Regions from separate parts of the Homo sapiens genome. Here region 1 is linked to region 2. A link means that fine-mapping ties the variant in region 2 to the expression of a gene that starts in the linked region. Tissue or cell type: whole blood. Region 2 holds a variant in brackets; the other region holds the start of a gene. All regions are shown on one strand. Distances are between the middles of the regions.

Region 1 (8,104 bases), 240 kb before region 2:
ACCTGTAGGTCTTCTGCAGATGTTCTTTAATAAATTGAGGAAATTCCCCCATTTTCTGAGAGTTTTCTGAGAGTTTTTGTCATGAGTTCTGTCAAATGCTCGTTCTGCATCAACTGATAAATCATGTGATTTTTCTTCTTTTGTCTGTTAATGTACTGTATTGCATTAATTGGTTTTCAAATATTGAACAAGCCTTGCATCTCTGAGATGCATGGTGTATAATTATTTTTATGTATTTGTGGATTCTATTTGCTAGTATTTTTCTAAGGATTTTTGTGTCTATATTCATGAGGCATATTGGCATGTAGCCTTCTTTTTTTAACTTTTTCTGGTTTTGGAAGTATCAGAGTAATACTGGCTTTATAGAATGAATTGAGAAGTGTTTGATTTGGACTTATGACAACAATTTTGTGCAATCTCTTATTTATTTAGAGATGAGGTCTTCCTATGTTGCTCAGGCTGGTCTCAAACTCCTGAGCTCAAGGGATCCTCCTGCCTCATCCTCCCACAGGGCTGGGATTACAGGTGTGAATCACCATACCTGACCAATTTTGGGCAATTTTAAATACAACAATAATGGATATGATGAAAGACTATCACTGATAATAATAAAGTCAAATTTCATATTCCACATGAAAATTAGATGATTTTAACTCATAGAGAAGTCGTTTATGGATGCCTATAGAGGAAAAAGAGTGTTCCCCTATCTGAACTTGTGCCATGGCACTCCAGGCCTTTAATTCACATACTTCTTAGATTTATTAAATCAAGAGGTGGGTGGGAGGTGGGAGATATAGGAAGGTGCAGTCCTTTTCCTCATTACTGACTCTCACACACATTTGAAGCTGTTTCCCCTGCCTGTCTATGATCCAGAGTTTTCTTTTCAAATTTTCTTTTCATAGCAAATAAGTTAGATGCATAGTCACTTTGACTCATCATGATGAAATTGAGATAGAAACTCTTCTGTAATAGTAGGCATTTATTTTCACAAGTTTGTAGTTATAAGATTTACAGAAGTTAATGAACTGTGAAACAAAGTGTATTTTAAACAAAAAATAAATGGGGAAGCCACAAAGGGAATGCAGGTGCCAAAAATCACTTGCTATTCAAATTCTCTCCTCTCCCCAGGCTAGAGTGCAGAGAAGCTAAGATGGGTTTCCATGAAAGGAACAATTTCGATTTCTCTGGCAGTGAGAACAGGGTACCCTAAAAGATACGGGAATAGTTACTCATATCACATCTTTATTTAACCCATCTGGCTAGTCTGGAGATTAGTAGTGGGTAATTGTAGAATTAATCAGGCTGTGATTCGAACTGAAGCTGCTATTCCAGATGATGCTGTTTTCCTACAGCAAATCAACATAGCCCCCTGGCACCTGGGATACAGCTATTCCTTTGCCAAATGTTATTTTTTCCCATTCAGCAGAGAACACTAGAAGCAGCTTACTTTCATCTAGCGGGAACAGAAGTACAACCTTAGGACTATATCTATTCTCTGGCTCACTGTCATAATCCACGTTGAATGGAGCTTGATTGTTGTGAATGTTGTGCTGGTTTATTACACTGATGACATATGTACTGGACCTGATGATCTAGAGGTAGCGAATACTCTAGATGCTTTATTAAGATACAAGTACACCACAGGGCAGGAGATAAGCCCCATGAAAACTCAAGAGCCTGAACCTCAGCAAAGTTTTTAGATGGTCTGGACCACGTTGGGTATTCAACATGTTGTTGTACCGCTTACCACCTACCACTCAGAAAGAGGCACGGCATTTGGTGTGGATGTTTGAATTTTGTAGGCAACATATGCTACATTTAATTGTGCCGCACCAATGCACTCAGCAAGTCATCTGTAGGGTTGCATGTTTTCGGGGAGAGATCCAGGGCAAGAAAAGGCTCTGTGACAGGTCCAGGCCACTTGACCCTTATGACCATGTAGATTCAACAGGTACAGGACCTTTGACACACTGGGAGGCTACACGGAGCCTCTGGCAAGTCCCAGTAGGAGAAACACACAGCAAAGCCCTAGAGTTTTGAAGTAAACCATGCCCTCTACCACAAAAGAAGTATTTTCCTTTTGACCAACAGCTTCCAGCTTGCTCCTGGGCTGTGGCAAAGTCTGAATGCTTGACCATGGGGCACCAAAGAACCATGGAACTTCAGCTGCCACTGATAAATTTGGTGCTATTTCATCCTCTTTTGGAAGTGGAATATTTGAGACCAGACTCAAGCAGGTCTGGAAGGTACAGGAAAGTTGCTAGAGCAGGTGGCTCACATCTTTGTGGCCCCTGCTGCTGCATGATCACCATTCCCTGGACTTACACCCAGAATGTCGTAGGGAGTTCCTCATGACCAGGTCTATCGGTCAAGGTTTCAAAAGGAAGCAAACAGTAGACTCAAGGGGTTGAAATGAGGAAAGTATAATTAAGGGATTTTTTTTTTAACAGAGGTGTAAGCAAGACTTAGAGAATTAGCAATGCATAGTGGGGCTCTCAGGGACTGGCAACAGTTGATATGGCCACAGCCACTGCTAAGTGCTCAAGCTGCCCACAGGCAGAGACAAACAATGAACCCTTAATAACAGCATTCCCTGGGGGGACCAGACAGCCACCTGGACTGCCATCTGGAAGGGGCAGCAATTTTTTCTCACTTGAACAGGTACTAATTTTGTACATGGATTCGCTTTTTTAAAATTCACATTTCTGCTGGCACTCCTGCCCATTGACTTACTGAACCCATTATTCACACTGACATTATCTCACACAAGAAAATCATTATAAGCCAGTGTGCGCATGCTGATGGACTCCACTGGTGTTACCATGTTAGCTCATCACCCTGAAGCATCTGGCCTGATAGGATGGGAGGTTGGTCATTCTGTTGAAGATGCTAGCAAACGTCACATAGATGATACCCACAAAAAGCAGAGGGTGGTGCTTAAGTGGATGGGCTCTTGACACAGCTCTGGCTGCCTATGGATGATTTTCTCGTGTGGCTCTCGACAAGTGACACTGTCATCCTGTTTTTCATTTTAGTAACCTGCAAAATTGAGATAATAATAAGAGCCCTTTGACAGGGTGTTGTGTGGATTCAATGAGATAACGCCTGGAAAGTGCTTAGCACAATCGCTGGCATGGTGTTAGCTTGGCAGTAAGGAAGGTCACAAGTGTTAGGTGCTCATGATTGTTATTTTTACTTAGCGTGGTCAGCACACTAGTTGGCACAATCGACTTTAGATCCATCTTTTAAAACCTTCGAGTCAAAGAGATTGCAAACAGCACTACCTTTTGAGTTTGGGTCATTTGGGTTCATTAAGACATTTAGACCGTTTAGCCGGCAAAGCTTATCACTGAATACAACGATCTTTGGGGGAGGGACATAGAAAACACACTACTGTGCAAGCAATCAAGTGGAATAGGGAAGTCCAAGAGGAGTCTTGCTTTTGTTTCTCCGTGAACTATGCACATGGCAGATGCAGGTGGTACTTGGGTTTCAGCTCCAGGGTCCCTGAGACCCAGGGACCAGCCCGTTTGGCGTGGCGGATTGGGGATGGGGCATGAGGGCAACAGGTTCCAGGCTGTGCTCCCATTAGGTCGCAGGGCTCCTTCCGAGCGCTTTCTCGTGACCCTGGGTGAGAGTGGCAGGCGCCCTGCTGCGTAGGCTCCCCCCCCCACACCCCCCCCCCGGGCACAGCCGCTGGCGGAGCTGCAGTTGCTCGAAGGGGCTTCCCAGGCTTCGCTGCTTGCTTTTCCCGCCGTCTTGGGTTGCGGGCGGCGTCGGTTCCCTCCCCGGGGGCCGCGGCGGCCGGAGGCGGGGGTCGCAGCGGCCGCTCGGGGCGGCGCTGGGCGGGCGGGCGCTGGGCCCGCCCCGCCGGCATCCTTGGCCCGACTTCCTTCTGCCGCGGGCGGCTGGCCCAGCTGGAGGAAGCGGCGGCGGCGGCCACGATGAGTGCGGGCGACGCAGTGTGCACCGGCTGGCTCGTTAAGTCGCCCCCCGAGAGGAAGCTACAGCGCTACGTGAGTAGGGGCGCCGCCACCCGCCCGGCCTTCGCGTCCCGGGGCACCCGCCCGCGGGGCGGCCGCGGGGAGCCGCTGGGCTCCGGGCGCGCCAGGCGCAGCCGCTCCCAGCGCCCGGGACTGCGGGCGAGGCCGACGGACGGAAACCGAAATCGCACGTCGAGCCAGCTTCGCCGCTGTGCTAGGCAGCGGGCCGGAGACCAGGTGGCGCCTGCCCGCGGGGCTCAGGGACTCCAGACCGCCGCTGACTCTAGCGGAGGGAGGCGGGTTGGGGCTGAAACCTCAGGCGCCACTCTCCGTACAGGAGCGGCCAGGGAGACATCTCGAAAGCGTGCCCCTTTCTTTGGCTGGGGGTGGCTCTGAGACCCATCGCCCCGCGAAGGAGACGCGGCAGGGGATAGGGAGACTGACAGCCAGAGGGGAATTGCCTGCATTCCCCCTGGACCGTAAGGAGTAAGGAGTGCTGCTCTTGTAGCTGTCATCGGACACTGCTGTCTGGAACCCTACACAGTGTAACTCGTTTCTCATCGTGTAACTCCTTTCAGCTTCTTCTTAATGCTGACACCGCGCTTTTATAGTGCCAGCTGGACAACTGACTTTTACTAATATGAAATTAGGAATACTTGGAAGAGCGAATCTTCCTACCTATTCCATTACCGTTTTAAGATGTACTATCGACACCTCAAACGTTCATTATCTCCATCAGCGTCCTCACGATAAGGTCTTAAAAACATTCTGCTTAAAGACCTGATTGCTACTCAGTGTTTTTCAGCCATTAGGAAGAACCACTTCAGTCCCCAGGGAGTTGCATATAAATAGCTATTAGGACTTCTTGCTTTTTTTAGGCTGGGAGTAGCTGGATGGATTCATCTTGTTCTTAATTCCTAATTTCTCTGCAACTTCACTGCACGGTGGTAGGAACAAACTCGCGCATGTCTGCGCTCATCCAAAGCAGCCCACCCCAAATGTGGTTCAGCCTTGTGCTCTTGTCTATACAGTGCTCTCAAACTGCTGTCCTCTTCTGGCCAAATTTCACAACTGTTTTTGTTCCCACATAGATGAGGCACATATTGTGTGGAAGTTCAAGAGGTGGGATTATAAAAAGACTTTAATAATGTATGAATACTTCCAGAATGTGTGGCAGGAGATTTTCCTGAACATAGAGTTGCTCAAGCCCTCTTTCCCCATTCACATCGGGCTAGACAGTGTGTGTTTCTCTCTTAGGGGTCTTTGAAAAGATTTTTGTTGTTTGTTCTGCAGAACAGAACTTTAGAGGAAGGTTGTTCTATTTAGCACGTGAATATCAGGAGTGCATAAATACTGAGATTTCTCTAAGTGCCAGTGTGTCCCTACATCATTTGCTTTTGAGTCCAGGAGTCCATAAGCACAGGGTCCAATATCTCTTGGCCTCTGCATTATCCAGCTGCTTCCTTAACTGTGAAGCTACTCAAAGGAGGCAAGAGAAGAAAACCTGCTCCCATCACCTGCATGAGCAGGTGAGGCTTTTGTCACACAGTAGTGCTTGCAGTGTTGACTCAGGATGGGTTTCCTTGTTGTCCTTTGGAATGACAGACATTTTAAAGGTTCACTATACAATTTCAGTAGATGATACAGAAAGATGCCCCTGGAGGGCAAAGATTATAGAATATTTTATTTCCCAGTCTTTTTTTGTATCTTAAGCAGACTGGCTTAGGGAAGTTTATTAGTATTTCATCAACTTTGGGAAGGCATGAGTGTGTGTGCCTATTATCACACGCGGTTCATTCCTTTAGGGGATGTGGCAAGAGTGGACACTGCGCAGCTTAGAGATATGTGGGGCGTGTGATGATGGGGCAGTGACTAGACTTAAGACACAAGAGTACCTAGGTGTCATCTTACCAACACTCCAAGACATAAACCTTGATGTTTGGGAACTGTCTCTAAGAAAGATCATATCTAGTCAATGCTTTTTTCGCTGACAGGCATCTGTCCCTGGAACACACCACAGAAAGAATTCTTTTTCCTCTCATAGCTAAATTCTGCAGGAATCTTTTTCACCACTAGATGGTGATCATGTGTCACTTCGACGGGGCCTGGATAGGGCTGTTACAGCTGCTTAAATTCAATTCCTGTCACTCCCTCCCGTTAACGGAGCGCTAACTCCGAACTAGGCCCTGTGTTACAGGCTGGGAAGACAGAAAAAAAAGACTTGATTCCAGTTTATAGTTTAACATTTATAATAGTAACATAGCAAAACTAGTTATTGGCACAACCAGGACAATAACTCAGTTATTCGTGCTGCCAGGCCAGCAAGCAGCACTCCATCAATGTTTGCTGTTACAAATGGAAGCTCAGGCAGTTTTTAGGTAAACCTTTCAGTCCAAAGTAGGCTTGTACTTCATCCACTTGAATCCATCAGTGAAGACAATCAGAAAGTTATTTTTTATCACTGGTCTTTTAAAAGATAGTTATTTTCATCTGTATTTTTTGTTTCACAAGAAATATATTCTTATGTTAATAAATAGAATGAAAAGTGAAGACCCCCTTTAAATTTCCCCTACCCCGCTACCTTCCCTTTGCTCTCCTCCTTATTCCACTCCCCAACCCAGGGATAACAACTGTGAGCCGTTCAGTGAGTACCATTCTACAAAATTTTTCAGAAAATATATAATTTTCTTTTTGCACAACTGGGATCATATTCTACTAACGGTCCTGCAATTTGCTTTGTTCACAAACATCCTGGACATCTTTCCAGGTTAGTACATATAGATTTACTTCATTCGTTAAAGCATTGTCAAATATTCCTTGTAATACATATAATATAACAATTTCTCTATTGGTGAACATTTGGCTTGCATCTATTTTTATCCATTTTAAAGAGTCCTATAATAACAGTGATAATAAAGCTATAATAGTTCACTTTTATTGAATGTTTATATGTGCCAGGCACTACACTAAGAACTTGTATTAACTCATTTAGTTTTCAAAACAATGCCAAGAGCCAGGCACTGTTTTTGTCCCTGGATATAGGTTCTCTGGATATAGGTTCTTTGTTGCATATTTAATTTGCAAATATTTTCTAGCAGCCCATAGTTTTTGTCTTTTCATCCTCTTTTGAAGAACTAAAATTTAAAAATTTTAATGAAATCCCCAATACAATTTTTCTTTTATGAATCATGGATTTAATGTTAAATCTAACAACTCTTCATCTAGCCTAAGATCCTTTGTCACCCAGCCTTGACCTCTTGGGCTCAAGTGATCCTCCCACCTCAGTCTCCTGAGTAGCTGGCACTATAGCTGCTCCCCACCATGCACTGCTAATTGTATTTTTTGTAGAGAGGACAGGATTTCTCCATGTTGCCCGCAGGCTGGTCTCCAACTCTTGGCCTCAAGTGATCCTTCCACCTTGGCCTTCTAAAGTGCTGGGATTACAGGCGTGAGCCAATGTACCTGGCCTCTGAAAGTTTTATAATTTTATATTTTATATTTAGATATTTTATATTTAGATCTATGATCCATTTTGAGTAAATTTTATAAAAGCTGTGAGGTTTGTATCATGGTTTCTTTTCTTGCATACCGATTTCATTTGTTCCAGTACTATTTATTGAGTAGACTGCCTTTATTCCATTGATTTACTTTTGAAACATCATCAAAAACCAATTTACCTGAAGGGCACAGTGGCTCACGCCTATAATCCCAGCACTTTGGGAGGCTGAGGCTGGAGGATCTCCTGAGGTCAGGAGTTCAAGACCAGCCTGGCCAACATGGTGAAACTCTGTCTCTACTAAAAACACAAAAAAAATTAGCCAGGCATGGTGGTGGGCACCTGTAATCCCAGCTACTTGGGAGGCTGAGACAGGAGAATTGCTTGAACCCCAGAGGTGGAGGTTGCAGTGAGCTGAGATCACACCATTGCACTCCAGCCTGGGCGACAAGAGCAAAACTATCTAAAAAAAAATCCATTTACCATATCCATGTAGATCTATTTCTGGATTCTCTAGTCTGTTCCATTGATCTATTTGTTTTATGCCAACAACATGCTGTTTAATGACTAATGACTGTAGCTTTACAATAATTCTTGAAATCAGGTTATTTTAGCCCTCAAACTT
Region 2 (8,104 bases):
AAGGAGAATGAGGAGTGTCCAGAGAGATTGGGTCAGGAGAGTGTGCTGTCCGGAAAGCCAGCAGAGAAGTTAGTGCTTCTGTCAGGTGGACATGGGCAGCCCACTGAGAGGTCAAGGAAGATCAAGGCTGACAGGTCACCAGGGGTGGTGACACCACAAAGGTCATCAGTGGCCTTGGCAACAAGCTGATTTGGTGAGGTGGTGGAAGCCAGGCCAGACTGGAGTAGGGTGGGAGGGAGTAGGAGGTGAGATGATGGAATGAGTATAGATGACTTTTGAGGGGGTTGACAGGGAAAAGAAAGGTTAGGGGAAAGAGGATGGGGATGTGGTTTTGAAGAAGAGTGTTTTCTTTGCTTCCTTAACATTGGAGATGTTGAAAATACAGGAGAAAGAGCGAACTAGAGAGAGTGATCACTATTACAAGAAATCAGAGAAGGCTGGGGAGCTTGCAATCCAGGTCCCAGCAGATGACGGGACTGTTGTTGTTTTGGTTTTGTTTTGTTTTGTTTTTGTTTTTGTTTTGAGGCAGAGTCTCACTCTGTCGCCAGGCTGGAGTGCAGTGGCATGGTCTCAGCTAACTGCAACCTCCGCCACCCAGGTTCAACTGATTCTCCTGCTTCAGCCTCCTGAGTAGCTGGGATTACAGGTGCGCGCCACCATGCCCGGCTAATTTTTGTATTTTCTGTAGAGGCAGGGTTTCACCATCTTTGTCAGGCTGGTCTCGAACACCTGACCTCATGATCTACCCGCCTCGGCCTCCTAAAGTTCTGGGATTACAGGCGTGAGCCACTGCGCCCGGCCGGGACTGGTCTTAAAAGGGAGTAGGGACCCTTCTCCCTCAGAACAGGAGGAAAGCAGGGGCAGGTGGATGCCCAAATATATTGGTGGTTTCAGAGGCAGGAAGTTGAGGGGGTTCTTGGAAAGAGGGCTGGAGCCCTTCTCGAGCAGAGAGTTCTGGAAGGCCCCCTCCCAGACCCGCCAGGGAAAACCAAACCCAGCAGCCTTGGGATTTGAACTCAATTTCCTCCTTCCACCTGCCAGGGAGCTCAAGTCTCCCTTTCAGCCCTGGTAGAAGGCAACAGGTCTCCACCTCCTTGTCCTCCAGCCACTTCTTCCCAAGTGGCAGGGGAGATCCAGTCATGCAAGGCTATGGGGTCATTCTGGGGTTCGCTGGTATCTGAGGTGACCCCACCCTGTGTCTATCCTGCCTCCAGGCCCTCTCCGCATTGTGGTCCTAGTCGTCAGTGTGGGTGTCACATGGATCGTGGTCAGCATCCTCCTGGGTGGGCCTGGCAGTGGCTTTCCTCGCATCCAGCAACTCTTCACCAGTGAGTGTGGGACCCCGCCTTATCCTTCTCTGGAGGCCACCAAGGTGGCCACCTGGGCCTGTGGTTGAGGCTCTGGGTTGGGAGTTGACTTGGGTTTTCTATCTCCTCCCTGGCAGGCTACCTTTGGCTGTCCCCAGTCTGTCTCCTGGCATCAGGCGCAGCCTCCCCCAACACCCAGTTGCTTCATCTAGGAAAGCCAATACCTGATCACTAGAATTATATGCCCAACTGGAGTCAGTAGGGCCAGAGTAAGGGGTAGGGAGCTTCCACTGAACATGGGGAGTGATGCCCCGGTTGCTCCCTGCAGGCTCTGAGATGGAGAGGGGACTCTCCACCTTGTTGACTGGTAATAGGTCACCTGAGTACTTTTTTGTTTGTTTGTTTGAGACAGTGTCTCACTTTGTCTCCCAGGCTGGAGTGCAGTGGTGCAATCTCGGTTCACTGCAACCTCTACCTCCTGGGTTCAAGCGATTCTAGTGCCCCAGCCTCCCGAGTAGCTGAGACTACAGGTGCGCACCACCAAACCCGGCTTCTTCTTCTTCTTCTTCTTCTTCTTATTATTATTATTATTATTATTATTATTATTATTATTATTGTATTTTTAGTAGAGATGGGGTTTCACCATGTTGCCCAGGCTGGTCTCAAACTCCTGGGCTCAAGCAATCTACCCGCCTCAGCCTCCCAAAGTGCTACAGGCATGAGCCACTATGCCCGGCCAGGTCATCTAAGTAGTTTTTCTAATTCCATTTCCCCCTGTTCCTAGAGTAGGGAGTTTTTCATCTGAACATGACTTACACTTGAGCAGGAAGCATGCCAAGGTCGGCCTGGCTTAGCCCCCGGCCCCTGAGCCTGACTGCCTGTGTCTACACTTCGCGGTGTAAGGAGGGCCAGGCTGCCCTGCCGCAGGCCCCGGGAGGCTCCACACTAACAGAAACCACTCTGTATCCACAGGTCCAGAGAGCTCGGTGACTGCAGGTAAGGCCCCTGTCACCTCCCTGCTCCTCCCCTTTGTGACATCCCTGCCTGCCCCCGGTCCCGTAGGGCTTCGGTTTTCCATTTATTCCTCCCCAAACCAGCTGTGGTGGTCCACGGGGGCTGCTTGCCACTGTCAACCTACAAAACAAGTTACTTCCTGCCAAGTTACTTCCTGCCAGAATATGACGGTGGGGCAGGCCTAGGATAGATACTCCCACTGCAAAAGGGCAACTTGGAAGGAAAAAAGAGGTCACCCGTCCCAAGCAAGTCCAAAGCCCAGCAGGGCAAAATTCATTTGGTTTCAAGGCCTGAGGGGAATCCTCTGTGGCCTGAGATTCTTTCTTCTGGGCCTGCTGGAATGACCCATGCTCTGAAACGAGACAGCCCCACCTTCGGGGCCACCCTTCCTTCCCTTTATCTCATCTCTGCCCCCTTCACTCCAGGCCGGCAGTGTTTCTGCTGGTGTCAGATTCTCAAGAGCCTTGTTGGTCTCTTTTGCAAGTTATAGAGGCCCAAGCTATAAAATCAGAGAGTTTTCCCACAGACGCTTCCTAGATAACCCCATCTTCATTGTAGATTTCTGCTGAAAGGGTTGAGTGGACCCACGAGTCACATACCTCAGCTCTGGGGCAAACGCTTGAACAGCCTTGCTGTTCTGTCCAGGGGACACTTTTGCAGTTTTTGTAATATGATTAGGCCAAGAATTTTCCACATCTTCGCTTTCTGGCTCCTTTGTGCTCAACAGTTTCTTCCTTATGTCTCTCACATTTTACTATAAGCAGCAAGGAGAAGTCAGGCTACGCTCTCAACACTGCTTGGAAATCTCCTCAGCTGAATATCCAAGTTCAGCACCCAGCACTTACACATTCTCCTTTCGACAAAACACTAGAACACAATTCAACCAAGTTTTTTTTTTTTTTTGAGACGGAGTCTTGCTCTGTCACCCAGGCTGGAGTGCAGTGGAGCCATCTTGGCTCACTGCAACCTCCGCCTCCCGGGTTCAAGCGATTCTCCCACCTCAGCCTCCTGATTAGCTGGGATTACAGGCACCTGCCACCATACCCAACTAATTTTCATATTTAGTAGAGATGGGGTTTCACCGTGTTGGTCAGGCTGGTCTCG[A/C]ATTCCTGACCTCAAGTGATCCTCCCGCCTTGGCCCCGCAAAGTGCTGGGATTATAGGCGTGAGCCACCACACCTGGGCCAAGTTCCTTTATAACAAGGATCAGCTTTCCTCCAGCGCCCAATAACTCAATAACATGTCCCTCATTTTCCTCTGAGGCTTAACCAAAAGCACCTTTTTTTTTTTTTTTTTTTTTTGGTAGAGACAGAGGTCTTACTCTGTTGCTCAGGCTGGAGTTCAGTGGTATCATCCCCGTGCACTGTAAGCTCAAACTCCTGGGCTCAAGCGATCCTCTCACCTCAGTCTCCCAAGTAGCTGCGACTACAGGCATGTGCCACCACACCCAGCTAATGTTTTATTTTTTATTATTTATTTTTTGAATGTATTGAGACAGGGTCTTGCTCTCTCACCCAGGCTGGAGGGCAGTGGCGCAATCATAGCTCAAGTGATTCTCCTGCCTCAGCCTCCTGAGTAGCTGGGATTACAGGCATGTACCACCACACCCAGCTTATTTTGTATTTTTTGTAGAGACGGGGTCTCACTATGTTGCCCAGGCTGGTCTTGATCACCTGGCCTCAAGTGATGCTCCTGCCTTGGCCTCCCAAGGTGCTGGGATCACATGCGTGAATCACCACACCCAACCCAAAAGCACCTTTAACATTCATGTTTCTAGCAACGTTCTGTTCTTGATGATATTTGTATTCTCTAAGACCACAGAGGCTGTCTCTATTGCTCTCCCCTCCTCTCACCAGAATTACCTTTAACATCCATACTCCTACCAACAGTCTCTTAAAGGCAATCCAGACCTTTTCTAACATGTACCTCAAACTTCTATAGCCTTGATATGGTTTAAATGTCATCTCTAAAACTCATGTTGAAATTTGTCAATGTATTGGTATTGAGAGGAGGGCCTTTTTGAGGTAGTTACGTCATGAGGGCTCTGCCCTCATGAATGGATGAATGCCACTATTATGGGTGAGTTAGTTACCTTGAAGTTCAGCCCCCTTTTTTCCTGCGTCTCATATGCTTGCTTCCACCTTCCACCTTTCTGCCACGGGATGACCCTCACCAGATGCCGGCGCCATGCTTTTGGACTTCCCAGCCTCCAGAACCATGAGCCAAATGAATCTGTTGTCTTTATAAATTACCCAGTCTGTGGTATTCTGTTATGGCAGCAGCAAATGGACTAAGACAAGCCTCTACTGACTACCCAGTTCCAAAGCCATTTCCACATTTTTAGGTATTTGTTACCTAAGCACCACACTTCCTGGTGCCAAAACCTGTATCCATTTCCTGGAACTGCCATTTCAACTGGGTGGCTTAAACAACAGAAATGGATTCTCTCCCCATTCTGAAAGCCAGAAGTCTGAAATCAAAGTGTCAGCAGGGCGTTACTCACCCTGAAAGTTCTACAGGAGGGTCCTTCCTGACCTCCCCAGGTTCCAGTGGCCCCAGGCATACCTTGGCCTCTGGCTGTGTCACTCCTGTCTCTTCCTCCACTGTACCATGGCTGTCTTCCCTCTGTGTGTCTTTGTCACTTCTGTTCTTATAAGGACATCAGTCATGTTGCATTAAGGACCCAACCTACTCCAGTATGACCCCATCTGAACTGCAAAGGCCCTATTTGCAAACATCACATTCTGAAGTACCACAGATTAGAACTTCAGCATACCTTGAGGGGACAGAATTCAACCCATAATAGAAGCCATCCTGCTCCAGTCCTCCCAACCAACCCCCATCAAAATCGGGAGACAGGCTGCACCCCCTGCCACACTACCCCCTGCCACACTGCCTTTGCTCAGGTTGGCCTCATCCATGCAGCTAGACCCCCAGCCTGACTTACTTCACCCCTGCTTTGTTCCTGGCTGTGCAGTGGCCCAGGCCAGCCCTCAGCATCCTTTCTTTTCTCCCACCAGTAACAGAAAATCCTTCTGTCTTGGGTCCCTGTGGCCTCACCAGTAGGACACAGAGTATGGAAGTGTCCCCAGCCTCGGCCTGAGCCACATCCCCCTACTTGTGTCCTGCTCTGCGGTCACTTGTTCTACCATGTGTGCTGGTCCTGACCTCCCCTTCAGATCTCAGGTGACCTCAGGGCCAGGCCCATGGATAACACCTGCTATCCCTGCCCAGCGCCACGGGCCAGGAAGTACAAGTGTGGCCTGCCCCAGCCGTGTCCTGAGGAGCACCTGGCCTTCCGCGTGGTCAGCGGGGCCGCCAACGTCATTGGGCCCAAGATCTGCCTCGAGGACAAGATGTGAGCTCCCTGGGGTGACTGGGGATCAGGGAGGGAGTGGGGGATCCAGGGCCGGGTCTGCAAGGGAGAGTGGAGCAGACGTGCCCATGTGGGATCTCCCCGTCCCCCCCACCCCCCCCCAACTAGGCTGATGAGCAGCGTCAAGGACAACGTGGGCCGCGGGCTGAACATCGCCCTGGTGAACGGTGAGGCCCCTGGCTGAGCGTGGCCTGCCGCCCTCCTTCCCTGCTCCCTCCCCAGGAGGCCTCTGGGTGTTTGCCCTCCCTTCCCCTCCCATTCAAGATCTCCCAGGGAGGCCTGGGAAGGAGTCTGTGCAAGCGCAAGGCTCCACAGAGGAGTGACCCAATGAACAAAAAAGCATGATGGCAATAAAGAACTAGGGAAGGTTCTGGGAGGTTGAGGGTGCTTCATGGAGAGCCCCCGGAGGGCCTCAAATGCCAGACAGAGGCACCACGGCTTGGGGTGGGATGCAGCTGCCTGAACAAATGGATGAATATTGGGGGACTGTTTGAAAGCTTCCAGAAGGGCTGCCCCCCACCCCCGGTGCTACCCGCCTGCCGTGCCCTGAGGCTGGCCTGGCTTACCCAGCAGGGCCCCTCCCTCCTGACACAGGGGTCAGCGGCGAGCTCATCGAGGCCCGGGCCTTTGACATGTGGGCCGGAGGTGAGTTGCAGCGCAGCGTCTTGCATTTTGACTGCAGCAAAATGACCTGGGCAGCTTCCCCTGAGACACTGCTCTCTCTGTCTGTACTTGGAGCTTCTCAGTCACCTCCGTGGGTTCAGAAAGGACAGGGGCATCGCCAGCTTGGTCTGGAGGCTGTGGGAGGTCACGGGGATGCCTCAGCTTCCTACACCAGCCTGTCCCTTGGCGGGGCATGTCCCAGGCCCAATCCCTACTTCTGTTTCCTTGTTTGGAGAACGGGCTTGTGGGAGGGTGCTCAGTGGTGCCTGATGACCCCTGTTCCGTGGCACCTGCCCCCCCAGATGTCAACGACCTGTTGAAGTTTATTCGGCCACTGCACGAAGGCACCCTGGTGTTCGTGGCATCCTACGACGACCCAGCCACCAAGTAGGTGCTTGGGGAGGCCAGCCTCAGCCTTGCCCTTCTGCAGCAACAGCTGACACCCCTTCCTCCCATGCTGCAGGATGAATGAAGAGACCAGAAAGCTCTTCAGTGAGCTGGGCAGCAGGAACGCCAAGGAGCTGGCCTTCCGGGACAGCTGGGTGTTTGTCGGGGCCAAGGGTGTGCAGAACAAGAGCCCCTTTGAGCAGGTATGGGGGGTGCCTGGCATCACCCCCACCGGGGCAGCCTGTCGCCCCTTCTGCCTGCATGCGACGAGCCTCCCCAGCTGCTCACGCCCCAGCAGGGGACCGTCCCCAGTCCAGCTATGAGGGGTGGGCCAGTGCAGCTGATGCCATGTTTCCCTGGGATGGGTGGAGGGGCCAAGTGCCCTGAGAGTACACCGTTGGCCAACACAGCACAGTTGACTGACAGCCTGGGTCCTGGTCCACTCCTGTCCCCTGTCCCTGAGGGCCAAAGTCATGACTTTCTGCTCCCCTCCCCACAGCACGTGAAGAACAGTAAGCACAGCAACAAGTACGAAGGCTGGCCCGAGGCGCTGGAGATGGAAGGCTGTATCCCGCGGAGAAGCACGGCCAGCTAGCACGGCCAGTGCCAGGACCGGGCCGAGGGAGGCCAGACCAAGGGAGGCACGCGCGCTGCCGGGCGGACAGAGGCTGAGGCTCACACCCCACACCCGGGCAGGAGCGCTCCCTGGCCCCAACACATCGGGGCTCCGAGGCAGTGACCAGAACGTGGTCTCAAGGTGGTGGGGGCTATGGGGGCTGCAGGGGGTAGCCCTGCCGCACTTTGTCACGGGAGCCCAGGGTACCCGCCTCCTTTTCGTAACACTGTTCCCCCCGGTCAGCCCATCTAGCCCTGTCCTCCATTCCTCACGCCATCTCCATCCCCATCTTGAGTCCTGGAACGGCCCTGGGTGCCTGCCCCTCACTGTGCATCTCTGGGAGCAGCCCGGCAGGTTGGGGCGTCTTCCAGAACCTCTCCCTTCTGGAGCCACTCTGCACTGCGGGCTAAACATGTTTCCAGTGTGATTCCTTCCAGTGAGCCAAACCCGGTGGCTGCTTCATGAGCCTGACTGCCTCTCGCCTGCTCTCAGCAGGAAGGGACCCCTGGAGCAGGCTGGCCCGGGGTGGTGAAGTAGCTGGAGCCCGATCACAGTCCCGCGGTTTGTCAGGGGGCCCACCTTCTAGATGACCCCTTAATAAAGTGATGGCCCCACAGAAGAAATGCCTTCAGATGCTGTTGTCAGTGCGGAGTCAGAGGTGGCGGTGTCCTCTGGGGTGCGGGAGGACAGATTCCAGAGTCTTAACCAACCTGCTCCCACAGCCCGAGCAGACAGCCTTTTGT

Evidence for each region. PIP is the estimated chance that this variant, and not a neighbour inherited with it, causes the effect.
Region 1: it holds the start of GAB3, and the variant in region 2 is fine-mapped to the expression of GAB3 in whole blood (TOPMed, PIP above 0.99).

What each region holds. Positions count from the first base shown.
Region 1 is chrX:154,746,866-154,754,969 of GRCh38, reverse strand. It overlaps GAB3 (GRB2 associated binding protein 3), which reads left to right and starts at 3,893. Exons shown (of 10, transcript NM_001081573.3): 1 at 3,893-4,016. The coding sequence starts at 3,945. RefSeq lists silencers at 3,938-4,017, 4,188-4,247.
Region 2 is chrX:154,506,047-154,514,150 of GRCh38, reverse strand. FAM3A (FAM3 metabolism regulating signaling molecule A) reads left to right here. Exons shown (of 9, transcript NM_021806.4): 2 at 1,215-1,328; 3 at 2,280-2,303; 4 at 5,554-5,677; 5 at 5,804-5,862; 6 at 6,290-6,340; 7 at 6,661-6,745; 8 at 6,822-6,948; 9 at 7,245-7,980. The coding sequence ends at 7,340. Among named protein-coding and RNA genes, the nearest start is that of FAM3A, 6.1 kb to the left of the region's middle. The variant A/C (reference allele first, on the strand shown) is at 3,426.